Linked DNA regions of Homo sapiens: region 1 is linked to region 2. Evidence: fine-mapped expression QTL. A gene starts in region 2. The other region holds a variant in brackets. All regions are shown on one strand. Distances are from middle to middle.

Region 1 (2,904 bases), 67 kb before region 2:
TGTAAAGTGCCTTGAATGCTAAAATAAGAAATTTGGATTTTTCTCTCGTAAGTAATGAGGAACCGGGGAATGATCAGATTAGATGGTGTATAGTAGAACCTTTCAGTCTAGAGTACGTACTTATGTCCTTAGGGAAGGTGGTGGTGCTAGGTAGAGCAGTTCTTGAAGCCTCAAGATACTAAAACTGATAGTGGTAATTCAAATAGTCATATTCATTTCACTTATCCCCAGACCTCTCTCCTACTGTTGGGGCTACTTGGTACAAAAGTCCAAGAAGCACTAGATGCTAGGAGCTGGGTTAGAGGGATGGAAGAGGGTGAGCAGGGAGAAAAGTCAGTAGGCTGTGCAGGAATCTTGTAGGAGGTGATCCTAGCCGGGGGCAGTGGGGACAGCAGAAGAGAGCAGGCTGTAGCGCTCCAGCTGTTCTTCTGAGACACTCTGGGTTTCTATGTAGGTGCCTTGAGACAAGCAAGGGTTGGAGTTGAGTATGGGGGGATTTGGTGCTGCTTCCTGTTTTCAAGTGAAGCAGCTTGAATCTTTTTTATGCATAAAGGTTCTACATAAGATTTCTATTTTAATAAACTGTTTCTGCTGTTTAAAAAAAAAAGGGAGAATTCAACACCAGTGGGATAGAGTCACTAAGTAGAATTGATAGATTTTGTGAAATGGAGGGAAAGGAAGGAATCAGAGGTGTCAGGGCAGTGGATGATGGCACTATTGATAAGGATAAAACAAGAAGAGCAAGGCTGTAGAAAATAGGAATTCTATTTGGGGAATTACTCTCAAAGCAAATATATTTTAAAACAGAATAATCGTATAAAGTAGAAATGCCTTATCCTGGGATAGCTAAATTTTATTGGACAATTAACTTTTAGCCACAGAGTGGCTGGTTGATAGGCCTGTAGGGGCCTATCCTCACTGAGTCCTGTCTCTCCACACAACCTGAGAAAGCAACTTTTTTAGACAGTTCCCTTCCTCTTTCCCCATTTGGGTTCCTGCCTATGGAGGGCAGATGAGCCCAGGAGTCCCTCTTGCTTTCCACAGCCAGGCAGACCATGATGGTGCCTTTCATCCCATAGGATAATGCAAAGAGCCCTGGACTTAGAACAGGCAGACAGATCCGGGTCAGGGAGATCCATGGAGGATGCTCATGAGAAATATATTCTCTTGAGATCTGTTGAATTTTAAGTGTCTGAAATATCCAGTCTAGGATGTTTGAAAATCAGGAGAGATGAAGGATGAGATTGCGAGGGAGTACAGATTGGGTAGTGAAAGAGGACTAAGTGCTGTTCTCAGGAACATGCATATGCAAGAGAATAAAAGGTCAGAGAGGGTGTGACCTGGAGAGGGGAGTGTTGAAGAAGTAAGTGGTAGAGGCACTGAGGACCAGATGAGTGAGGACAAAGAAGGCGGCCTTGGATTTGGCTAGTAGACACAAGCAACCTTTGGGAGAGTAGAGTCATGGAGGTGGCATGGGGGCAGCACATGTTTTAGAGTCAGATTACTCCTGGTTGCTTATTGGCTCTGAGACCTCCGTAAGTTCCGTGTCTCTGAGCCTGTTTGCTCACCTGTAAATCAGGGATAATTCATAGGTAAGGTTGTGAGAATTAAATAACATCTGTAAAGTGTCTAATAGGTTCTCAATAAATGTTTATTCCTTTTC[C/T]TTTCTGCTGCATTTCAAGAGGTTTTGAAACAATGGAAAAGAGCAGAGGTAGTTAGCTTGATGAAGGGGAGAGCATGGTGGAAAGGATGTTCCAGGTTAGGTGAGGTGTCTGCTTGATGGAAGGAGCCAGTAACAAGGGTGACTTGGAGCTTTCAATTCCCTGAGAATGAATGCTGTGTTGATAAGGACTGTAGCAGGGTTGAGGAAGTACCCTTGGAAAGAAGAAAGAGGAGCACACCTCTGCCATCAGCAAAAAGGCCAGAGGAGGTGAGAGCTATGTGGAGGGAGAGAAAGGGAATCTGGCCTGTGCTTAACTGACGTGAGAGCCAGACTTTGAACTCCAGTGGCTTCATTTACCACTCATGTCATCTTGGGCCAACTGAGATCACTTTTCTAAGCCTCTGCTTCACTGGAATGTTGTGAGGCCTAAATGAGAAGCATAGAGCCTGGCCTGTGGACATGTTTTTAGTATTGGTGGGGAGCTGCACACCTGGTGGCCTCCGTTTCTCCCATGGACTAAGTCATCTGGGTGGGTGTGGTGCTTGAAAGCAGACACTTTGGGGATAGAGAGCCCCCCCAGGGTAGGGTTCTTGCCCAGCCGTATATCAGCTGTGAGACCTTGGGCAAGTGCTCTAGTTTCTCTGAACCTTGGTTTCTCCTTCTGTGTAAAATTAGGATACTAGGACCTATTCTTAAATGTAGAACCAAGAGGATTAAATGAGATAATGTGTGAAACACTCATCATGGTACCTGGTACATAGTAAGCACTCAATAAATAGACCCAAAGGGTAGGGGCCAGCAAATGTTGATTGAGAATGCATGGAAGCACTGCTGAGCAGCAGGAGGGCCCAGCTGGGGCCAGAGCTTTAAGCCAAAGGAACAAAAGTTAATTTTGAGAAACTCAGCATTAATCAGCAGTTGGGAGACATCTCCCAACCCCTTCAGCTCTGTGTGACATCCAAACCAAGGGTAGGCATGGGGGCTTAATTGTCAAGTGATGAGGACTTGGATAACTTGGTTTCTAATGCAGACCACAGTCCTGTGGATCTCTTCCAGAGGCAAGGGCCTTCTTGACCATCTGTAATGTGACCACTCTGCCTGCCAGCTTTGGCCTCAGGCACGTGGTGCCCCTGCTTCATGCACTGCTGTACCCACAGGACCGGGGCTTCTGCGTGGAGGTGAACACGGCCTTTGAGGACTTCGCCCACGTCATAAGCTTTGACAAGAGGGCTGCCGCACTG
Region 2 (2,904 bases):
CCAAAGTCAGCTCTAAAAACCCATTTATACAGACCGTTTGAAACCCACAGAAAGACTAAAAAGCACAGGCTAAACAACACAAACCAGTCACTATGGCTTAACGTGAAAAGGGGGGGAGGAGGCGGGATGGTTTGTGTATTGTTTCACTTGGAGAAATACCCCAGTGAAATGGTTTATCCACATGTTCAGCCTTTCAGGCAAATCCACTCTAACTTAGCAGGATGCCTGCAGGCCGTTCTGAAAATAAGCAGAATGGCATACTCTTTATTCCACCCCCTTCAGGAGCTGCCAGCCGCCTCCCCATCCCCCTCTCCCCCCAAACATCTGGTCTGGGCTGGGAGTGGGACCCACTCCCTGGGAAGCCTCCATGTTCGCAGGAGAGGCGGTGTCCCCACTCAGGGAAGCCTGCTGAGGAGCGAGCCGGCCGCGCTTCTGAATTCCCCCCACCCGCGAGAGGCTCCGGGCTGAGAATGCTAGGGACGGGGAGCCTGGCGAAGAAGCGGGGAAACGGGAAAAGGGCAGCAGAAGGGGGAGGAAGAAGGAGGGAGAAGCCTGGTTCCTAGGACGGTCCCGAACTGGGGACTTCTCCTAAGGGTCCAGCGGTGGAGGCGTCGGTCCCGAGATCCCCGACGGGGCTGTCCGGGCCGGCCAGCGGCTGCTCAGAGGTTCCTGGGAAGACACTGGAGGCCGGGATCCGTTCGGGACCCCGACTGAAAGGGTGGGCGGGACGGGGGCCCAGCACAAAGTCCCAGCCCGGGCGTCGGGACCTGAGGGGCGGTACGCGGGGGAAGGGGCTGGGCTCAGCTCTCACCAGCACCAGGGCGAACCTTTCCTCCAGCTCACAGGGCTCAGGCATCGGCATCTTGCCGGGCGGCAGCAACAACGGGACAGAGGGGGGCTCTCCCGGGACCCCCTCGGCGCTCTCCAGGTTGCCCATCGCGGCGGGGCCCCCTCAGGGGCCTCGGCCCCCCACCTCCACGCTCCGGAGCTTTCGGCTCCGCGGCTCCGACCAGGCTCCTCCCTCAGCGCCGGCTCCCCGAGTCCCGACTCCTCGGCCCCGTCGAGGGCGCCGGGGGTTCCCTGGAGTCCCGCTGGCGGGGGCGCGCGGCGAGGGCGGAGGCAGCGTAGCGGACAGCCGCACCGAAGCAAGGCGGACGGAGGCGGCCGGCTCTTGCTCACACCCGCCGCCTCGCCGCGCTCGGCGCGCCGCCCGGGCGCTGCCCCTCCCCGCCCCCCGCGCTCTTTCCCTTCCCCCGCCAACCTCGCTTCCTCCCACCCACACCCGGCCGAGACTCGGGCTTCCCCCGCGAGCGCCGACTGCAGCCCGCGCGACGCGCGCCCCATTCATGCAGGCCCCGCCTCCCGCCCAGAGGCCTCACAGGCGGCCCGGCCCGCCCCACCTGCGCCCGATTGACGGCCGCGTCTGCCAATCACAGCGCCTCCCGCCCTTGACGGCCTCGTGCCGGGCGCCGAGCGCTCCCTGGCGGCCTCAGCCGGCATCGAATCACCGCGGTTCCCAGAGGGCGTGAGGGGCTGGCGTGGACACACCGGGAATGGACCGTACCCTTTTTCAAAAGGAACTCATGATGTATACAAGTAAGTAAAATATTATACAAGGCATGGCGTACAAAACTAACTACAAGAGAAGTAGAAACAAGCAGGATACTCAGAAGAGGGAGAGAGATAGTACCTGTTAAGAGTCGGGGTGAGGGAGATCATAGTTGGACCAGGCATTGAGGGATGAGGAAGCCCTTACCCGACAGAGGCAGGGGAAAAAACGTTTGGGAGGAGAGAAGCTTAACCATCTGGCTGCGTGTGAAAATGGAGAGGCGGGAGAAGAACGCTGTTCTGGGCTCAGTCGGCGGCTGGGTCGTTGACATTTGCGGTGGAAATTTGTTGTCTAGCCGCCATCTTCTTCCAGTGAGAGCACCCCCTTTTCTTTTAGGAAACCACCTCTCCCCTCTTCTCAGTCTAAATGGAGCTGAATTTTATCCCCAGTTCCAAAGGACCGCATGACCCAGGCCCAGTCAGTCACAACATTTTCCTCCTCTACCCATGGACACTGTTTTAGGGATTGTCACTTGACCCAAGCCCAGACAATATGATATATCCAAGGCTTTCTCTGAAACAATCAGGAAAGAGGCACTCACTCTCTCTCCATTTAGGCTGCAAAATTATTAGAATGTAAACCTGCAGCCGCTGGTGGCCGTCTTATCATCACCTGTAACACATCAAGCCTGCTTGAGAATGAAGCCAGCGCAGAGGAGAGAAAAGCTATGAGACAGGACAAAATTCTAATGACATGCCAAGAACCTGGATCTAACCATGCCTGAAGTTATCACCTAGATTTTTAATTCATTTATTCAACAAATATTTATTTTAGAAAGTTTATTCTATGCCAGATACTATTCTGGGCATTGAAGGTACATCTGCGAACAAACAGGATATACATTGTGTCCTCTTGGAATTCACAATCTGTGTAGAAGGAAAGGTAGACAATAAACTAGACGAGTAAAATGTATAGATGTTAGTGATCAGTGTTAATAAAAATAAAACTGAAAGGTGATAGAGATGGAAGAGGCATTAAGATTTTAAATAGAGTTGCTTACTTGGGAGGCTGAGGCAGGAGGATCAATTGAAACTAGGAGGTTGAGGCTGTAGTGAGCCATGTTCATGGCACTCCACTCTAGCCTGGGTGACAGGGTGAGGCTCTGTCTCAATAAATAAATAAACACAGCTGTTGCTTGTCACAGGCATGATGGCTTCAAGGTTAATTTTCAGAGCTGGAGCGCTAGCCGCATAGGCCTGAGGGCTTACAGTCCCAATGGGGTGGTTGCAGTGTGCTTCATGGCATCTGGAGGTGGCGTTCCTACTGATGACAAGCAGATGACTGGGCTGGAGAGG

The links. PIP is the estimated chance that this variant, and not a neighbour inherited with it, causes the effect.
Region 1: its variant is the best candidate, but not a certain one, in a credible set for the expression of FMNL3 in whole blood (TOPMed, PIP 0.61).

The regions. Positions count from the first base shown.
Region 1 is chr12:49,639,088-49,641,991 of GRCh38, forward strand. It overlaps PRPF40B (pre-mRNA processing factor 40B), which reads left to right. Exons shown (of 26, transcript NM_001031698.3): 19 at 2,821-2,904. It overlaps FMNL3 (formin like 3), which reads right to left. Exons shown (of 26, transcript NM_175736.5): 26 at 1-2,904. Among named protein-coding and RNA genes, the nearest start is that of PRPF40B, 17 kb to the left of the region's middle. The variant C/T (reference allele first, on the strand shown) is at 1,664.
Region 2 is chr12:49,706,244-49,709,147 of GRCh38, forward strand. It overlaps FMNL3 (formin like 3), which reads right to left and starts at 1,162. Exons shown (of 26, transcript NM_175736.5): 1 at 812-1,162. The coding sequence starts at 937. LOC124902929 (a long non-coding RNA gene) reads left to right here and starts at 1,483. Exons shown (of 3, transcript XR_007063299.1): 1 at 1,483-1,596. It also overlaps the pseudogene COX5BP5. RefSeq lists a silencer at 806-1,575 and an enhancer at 1,596-1,745.